Linked DNA regions of Homo sapiens. The protein of the gene in region 2 interacts with the protein of the main gene of each other region in a pairwise test. Each region holds a gene or a part of one and is shown on either strand. Other genes may lie near its edges. The genes, in order: ZNF496 and RAI1.

Region 1 (3,810 bases), on a different chromosome or scaffold from region 2:
CATGGGACCAGAGAGTACAGGCTCAGGAGGTGAAGTCATTTCCTTCTGAGTTCCAAAGAGCAGGGCCAGTAGCCTGCTGGGCCTGGAGAACAGAGAACTGAGCCAGAGGTTATTGCTGAGCCTTAAAATCCCATGGAAATGACCTGCTAGATTTTTTTTTTTTTTTTTTGAGATGGGGTTTCGCTCTTGCTGCCCAGGCTGGAGTGCAATGGCATGATCTTGGCTCACTGCAACCTCTGCCTCCTGGGTTCAAGCAATTCTCCTGCCTCAGCCTCCTGAGTAGCTGGGATTACAGGTGTGTGCCACCACGTCTGGCTAATTTTTGTATTTTTAGTAGAGAGAGGGTTTCCCCATTTTTGCCAGTGCAGTCTCGAACTACTGACCTCAGGTGATCCGCCTGCCTCGGCCTCCCAAAGTGCTGGGATTATAGGCACGAGCCACACCACACCTAGCCCTGACCTGCTAGATTTAAGACTTGCTTGGGACCCATTACCCTTTCTTCTCTTGGATTTCTCTATTTTGGAATGAGAATGGTCTATGCTATGCTTTTCTCACAGTTGTATTTTGGAAGCAAAAAACATCTGGTTTCACAGTTCATAGCTGGAGAGGGTTTTGCCTCAGGATGAATCATACTTCAAGTCTAACCCATACCTGATTTGAGATGTTGATATTTAGATGAGATTTTGGACTTACAGTTGATGCTGAAACAGGTTGAGAATTTGGGGGCTGTTGGGATGAGGTGAATGGATTGTGCATGTGGGAAAGACATGAATTTTGAAGGTCCTGAGGGTGAGGTCTTACAGGGGATGAATTGTGTTGTCCCAAAATTTCATGTTGAAGTCCTAACCCTAAGGACCTCAGAATGTGACTGTATTTGAAGATAGGCTCTTTCAAGATGTAATTAAGTGAACATGACGACATATGGGTGGGTGGGCTCCCACATATGGTGGGAGGCCGAGGCAGGAAAATTGCTGGAACACGGGAGGCAGAGGTTGCAGTAAGCCAAGATCGCGCCACTGTTCTCTAACCTGGGTGACAGAGCTAGACTCCGTCTGAAAAAAAAGAAAAGAGCTATTGGTCTAACTGCCAGTATATGCATTAAACCATTTAATCCTTAGCAATAACTGTACAAGGCAGCTTTAACTATTATTTCTGTTTTCCAAATAAAAAATGTAAGGCAGAAAAGTGAAATTGCCCAAGGTTTCAGGGGAATTGAGCCAGTGGAGATGGGACCAGGGCTCGTGGCCACATAGCTAGCAGGCAGCCAGGCTGCTGCAAGTGCTTGTTGCAGGCGGAGTGGCAAAGGCATGCAGCGTGCAGGTAACTCCATGACTATCGCCTCAGGAAGGATGCTCTGGCCAGGAATGAATGACTTCCTGCGAGCTGAGGGGATTAAGGGGAACAGCAGGGGAGACTAGGAAGCTGGATGTGAAAAACCAAAATGATAAAGGCATTATTAAAAACTGTAAAATATTCTTGTAAAGTTAGAATGGGGAAGCTTTCTCAAGCAAGGCATAAAACCAAAAAGATGACGAATAAGTGTACCTACAGTTAAAAACTGTAAGAAAACATTTAAGCCAGGCATGATGGCACACGCCTGTAGTCTCCCCAGCTATTTGGGAAGCCAAAGCAGAAAGGCTGCTTGAGCCCAAGACTTCAAGACCAGTCTAGGCAACATAAAGAGACCCCATCTTTAAAAAACAAAACAAAACAAAACAAAACATTTATATGCTGCAAGACACATAAACAAAGTTGAGGGAAATGGAAGAAACTATGTATGAATACAGCAGAGGCAAGGGATTCAGACCCAAAACTACAACGACACGTGGGTTCAGGTAAGAATCAGAGACTTGGATTTGGTATTTAGAAGAACCTATGAAAGATGGCAGTTTCTATGAATCCACAGAAAAAGCAAACCGTGGTTTGGTAATGTAGAGTAAAAGCCATGGGTCTGAAGCCTGACAGCCTGAGTTCAAATCTTTTTTTTTTTTTTTAAGATGGAGTCTTGCTCCGTGTCCCAGGCTGGAGCGCAGTGGCGTGATCTTGGCTCACTGCAACCTCTACCTCCTGAGTTCAAGCAATTCTCTCTGCCTCAGCCTCCCAAGCAGCTGGGATTATAGGTGCCCACCACCACGCCTGGTTAATTTTTATATTTTTTAGTGGAGATGGGGTTTCGCCATATTGGCCAGGCTGGTCTTGAACTCCTGACCTCAGCGATCTGCCTGCCTCAGCCTCTCAATGTGCTGGGATTACAGGCGTGAGCCACTGCACCTGGCCGTTTTTTTTTTCTTTTTCTTTTTTTTTTTGGAGACAGACTCTCGCTCTGTTGTCCAGACTGGAGTGCAGTGTCATGATTTCTGCAGCCTTGACCTCCCAGGTTCAAGCGATTCTCCTGCCTGAGCCTCCCCAGTAGCTGAGACTACAGGTGTCTGCCACTGTGCCTGGCTAATTTTTGTATTTTTAGTAGAGACAGGTTTCGCCATGTTGGCCAGGCTGGTCTTGAACTCCTAACCTCAGGCGATCTGCCCGCCTCGGCCTCCCAAAGTGCTGAGATTACAGGCATGAACCACTGCGCCCAGCCTGAGTTCAAATCTTCACTCCACCACCTACAGCTTGTGAGCACTGGACTCTGGGCAAGTGACTTCAGCTCTCGGGTGCCCCAGCTGCAATACAGAGACATCATGCCACCTATCTCAGAAGGTGCCATGAAGATACAATGCACAGAATCATGTCATCATGTAAATCACTGAATCCTGGTGCAATGTTTAGGACATAAAGAAAACAAGTATGAGTGCAAAAATAAATAAATAAGGATAAATGAATACTAACTAGGCAATTCATAGAACACAATAAACAAGAAAAGATATTCCACCTCAGTGGCGGATGTAGTAGCATTATTTGATTGGCACAAACTGAACATCTGGGAGTGTCCTGCGTGGGCATGGATATAGAGAAGCAGACCTTATCACCAGCTATCCGGCATCAGCTGGCGGGAAAAGCCTTTTAGGAAGGCAAGCTGGCAGGAGCTACCAAAATAAGTACAGTGCCCACTCTTTGAAATATATCGTCTCTCCCCTTTCTCAGTAGCAACCCTTGGCTTCTGGCTGTTTCAGAGCAGTCTGTGTCAGAGTCCAGCAAGGGAAGAATGGAGTTGAAAACTCCTGTGTATAAATGAACATCCATCCATCTTCTAAAAGTATATTGATGGGGCTGAGAGACATGCTATGGGCAGAAAGAAGCTAGAGAAGATTCAAAGTGCACCACAAACATCAGGCCTGCGCTTGAACTCCAAGTGGACCCCAAATGAATGCATCACTCTTGGCACGCAGAGGTGGGCTTCTTAGAAAACCAGGGGTGGGCATCCATGCTTGTGGAGCAGGATCTCATCCTTTCAGATCTCCCACACTAGAAAAGCCCCTTTGTCCATGCATGAAAGGGGGCCAAGTACAAGATGCATGGAGCTGGGTCAAAATGGCATAAATCTTGCCTTCAAAAGCATCACAGGTAGAAGAGATAATATGTGTGAGTTGGTCTCCATAGCTGCAGAAAACTACAATGACACGTGGGTTCAGGTAAGAATCAGAGGCTTGGGTTTTGTATTGAGAAGAGAAAGATGGCAGTATTGTAGCCTCTGCTTCTGGAAGTGGTGACTTTTACCAAGACGACTCAGAGTCTACACTGTGGCTATTTCTCTGAAAGCAGGAATGGAACATACACTTTCCAAGAGTCCTGTGCAGCTTCAGTATGCCAGAAACCTGCTCTTTAATCCCAGTTCCAAGATTCTGTGCCAGGATGCTGGCCATCCATGCT
Region 2 (3,810 bases):
GCAAGGCCCGCGGCACCAGGAACCTGCAGGAGTCCTGTCGGGGCCAGCCTTCCTCTGAGGTGGAGGGTGGAGTGAGGTGGGCAGGGCGTCTGGGCGTGGAGAAGGTCTCCAGCCATCCCCATGGGCAGTGGGAAGCAGGTGCCCAAGACACACACTAGGAGGCGTGGGTGGCAAACACAGTGGGCCCCCACCGGGACCTTGGTTTGGCCAGGCAATGCCACGGCAACTGTCAGGAGCAGGGGCTGCTCAGAGGGGCTGCAGGGGTGTACTGCGAGGAGCAGGTGGGCAGTGCAGCGACGGGGGAGGAGGCTGGGCAGGGGGAGGGGCGAAGCCACCGGCTGGGGCCACTGTGCTGGGTCACTGAATCACTCAGATGCAGGCAGTGTTTGTCCAGGGCCTCTGGAGACCCCTGCCAAGCCCCTCTGGCTCCCCTGTGACCTCAGCCGCACATAGTGGGTTGAAGGAAGGAGTGGAGGGGATGGGACTCAGGGCAGGGGCCAGAGAAGGCTGCAGGCGTCCCCACTGAGAGCCACCACACAGCGCTGAGAGCCGGGAGCGTCACTCCACGGAAGTCTGGATGAGGCAGTGGAGTCGGGGTTGAATGTGGGGGCAGAAGCATGGCCCCGGGGGAGAGGTGCACCCCACCGCCCCCACTGACCCCTCCCTCAGAAGGGCACAGAGGTACTCTATGGTACTGGGGAAGTGGTGACACCACGAAGAACGTCACCCTGCTGTCACCAGAGCCACCAGGCCCCTCTGCACTGACTATCACAGGGCTGCTGTGCTCGGTGGGCTCAGAGGTGCCCACCTTTTAACCCTCCCGACCCCTCCTCCATGGGCACCCTCATACCCACGTTAGGGGCGAGGGGACGGAGGCACAGAGAGGGCAGGTCACAGCCCCAAAGGTGCATGGCGGCACAGCCCCAGAGTTCCCTCTCTCATGTTGGTGCTCAGTGACTATGGCTTCCAAAGCTGGTCTCAGAGCCAATGGTGAGAGGGTCTGGATCTGCCCCGCCCTGCCTGTTGTGACTGTGTGACCCCATGGACTGTCCTGCAGAGGGAGGAACCCTGTGACTGGGTCCATGCACCAAGCCTGTGTCGCCAGAGAGGGTCTTCCTGAGCCCTTAGCTTCATCCCAGAGGCAATGGAGACAGGAACAGAGGGTGGGCAACTTGCTCTTGCACCGCCCGGGGCAGCCCTGATGTTCAATCTTGGGAGTCCTCGTGTTCTCTGGGCCTTGGCATCTCCGGTGACAGCATGGGGAGGGGCCCAGTGGATTCTGGGTGGGGCTGGAGCCTGAAGATGCCAGGTGAGTGGGAGAGTGGCGGTGGCTGGGCATACGGGCCCCGGCGGGAAGTCTCCTGGGACAGGGTAGGTGAGTGTGACCTGCCTTAGCCAGATGGGTGCCTCCACTTCCCCCACACACCCCAGAGAGGCTCAGGACTCTGCAGATTGTCCCGAGACTGCAGACACATTTGGCCCACACTGTAGCACTAGAAACAAGGGGCTCCCCGACTGCCTGCCTGCCTGTCCTTTGGAACCCCACACTCCCCACCCTGGCTGGGCTGGCCTCTTACCATGTCCACGGCCACCTTCATGGCCTCCTGCAGCCCAAAGAGCTTCCCGGCCACCAGGTAGACGCCGCCGGTCCACACGGCACAGGCCTCATGCACCCAGTGCTCCTGGGCCTCCCCGCCGGGCTCTGCCGGAGCCTCCTTGCTGCACTCATGTTTGCGACCCTTGTCGGCTGGGGCTGCCTCCTCGCCCCCATCCTCCCGGCCATCACAGCAGTAGCAGCTCTGCAGCCTCCGGGACAGGCCCCGGGCACTGGTGCGCAGTGGGCCCTGCTTGGCCGGGTCAGCTGGGCCGTCAGGCCTGGGGGGCTTCCCGGCAGTGGCGGCAGCTGCACACTCGGGACCTTTGAGTGTTCTCTCAAGCGGCAGCGAGGCCTCCTCACAGGTGCCTTCTGGCCGCACCTTCTCCTTGAGTTTTGGCTTCTTTTTGGGGAGGCAGTGTTCAGGGTAGTAGGGCCCACAGAGGTCCCCAAGGTCCTTGAAGTTGGCCGGGTTTTGGCAGAGGCAGCAAACAAGGCAAGAGGTACTCAGGGCCTTGGAAACCACAGGCCCCAAGTGCATCGTGGAGGAGAGGGGCAAGGAGGGCCGCGGCTGCAGGATGGAGCCTCCAGGGAGTGTGGCCAGGGAGGCCCCGGCTGCATCCAAGGAGAACGAGGACGAGGATGAGGAAGAGGAGGCAGAGGAGGAAGGCTTCCTGTGGGGCTTGGGCGCATCTCCAGGGGAGTTGACAACAGTGCATATGGTGGTGAACGCGTCTCGCTTCTCCACCCGCACGAAGGGTGAGAAGGCGGGGGTCCGGCTGTCTGACCTCAGCCGCTTGCAAGAGGAAATGTACTTGAGGCGGATTTCAGGCTCTGCGGGATCCAGGGGCAGCACCTGCTGCTGTCGTCGTCGCTTGGCACGCCCCTTACAGGGTGAAGAGGTGGTGTTCTTGGCCCGGCCCCGAGTGAGGCGCTTCCGCTTGGAATAGCTGCTGTAGTTGGTGTGGCCTGGCTGTTTCTGTGCCCTTGTCTGGGGCTGGCAGGGCCTGCCCTCCGGGGGCTGGGAGGCCAGGCCCAGCTCCTCCATCTTTGGCTTCTTGCCTCCTCCACCAGAGTTGTCCTCACTGGCCCCTTGTGTGCCACTGGCCCTGTCTCGGGGAGTCAGGAGCAGAGCCGGGCCAAGATAGGGCCGCTTCTCCAGCGGGCCTTTGGAGAGTCCATGGGCCCCTGCCCGGCCTTTCCGGCTCCTCTTCTTAGGCGCCAGGGCAGTCCCCCCAGGCTGCAGGGCCTCCGGGGATGTGAAGGCCTCGGTTTTGAAACAGTCAGTAGAAGACAGTTTCTTACTGTTCATGAGTTTGCCTTTTAAGGATCTGTTGGTTGGATTTCTGCATAACGGATCAGCCCCAGAAGTTGGGAGCTTCTGCCCGGTGCCCACATTTACCAGGCCTTCTTCCACCCCCACTGGGCTGCCCCCAGCACCCTTGAGCCCACGGTCTTTGTCGGAAAGGGATGGGCTCAGAGGATTACCAGGAGAGGCCCCTGGCGCTTTACATGCGAACTTCTTGAGGCTGGGCGAGGTGATCTTCTGCACGATGGCTTCCAGCTTCAGGCCCCGGCCCTTCCGGGGTGGCAGCACCTTGGTCTTCATGGCCCCCTGGAAGGCTGCCCGAGAGGCGAGCTTGAGGCAGGCATCGGGGGTCTCCGGGGGTGGGAGCTTTGTGGCAGGCTCGCCATTGCCCTTGGTGGGCTTGGCTTTCTTGGGAGAAGACATCCTCTTGAAGAGGGTGGGGGAACCCTCAGGCCTCTCCTCCTTCCCATCTCCCCCATTGCCACTGGCGTTGCTGCTGCTGCTGCTGCGGCTCCGCAAGACCAGGTTCCGCTTCTTGGTGGGGACCGGCGCCATGAAGGCCGACTTCCTTTTGAGCGCATGGAGGGGCCGGTCAGAGAGCTTGCTGCCTGCACCAGGTTTGGGGACCCTTGCCCGCTGGCTCACCCTGCCCTCCTTCTGGGGGCTGCTGGAGACCTTGAATGTGGCGGGCAAGTGGCTGTTGTCGAGGAGCTTCTTGGTGGCACGGCAGTTGGGGAGCCGGCCCTCAGAGGGCCTCCGCCGCTTGGAGTGGAAGATCTCCTGGGTTTTGGTGCGTGACCGAAGGATCATGGAGCGCTGGTCCTTGCCAGGCGTGCTGGGTGAGTCTGTCTCCTTGGTCTTGGAGCCCATCGGGCTGCTGTCGGAGGCCACAGGCAGGGCGGCCGGG

The links.
Region 1: the proteins of RAI1 (region 2) and ZNF496 interact in a two-hybrid assay, tested with the Homo sapiens proteins (one large-scale study listed by BioGRID and IntAct).

What each region holds. Positions count from the first base shown.
Region 1 is NC_000001.11:247,304,220-247,308,029, forward strand, and holds part of ZNF496 (zinc finger protein 496), read right to left. Parts: intron 3,809-3,810; coding exon of another isoform or gene 3,654-3,808; exon of another isoform or gene 2,483-3,653; intron 1-2,482. UniProt on the Homo sapiens protein: DNA-binding transcription factor that can both act as an activator and a repressor.
Region 2 is NC_000017.11:17,796,281-17,800,090, reverse strand, and holds part of RAI1 (retinoic acid-induced protein 1), read right to left. Parts: coding exon 1,578-3,810; intron 1-1,577. UniProt on the Homo sapiens protein: Transcriptional regulator of the circadian clock components: CLOCK, BMAL1, BMAL2, PER1/3, CRY1/2, NR1D1/2 and RORA/C. Positively regulates the transcriptional activity of CLOCK a core component of the circadian clock.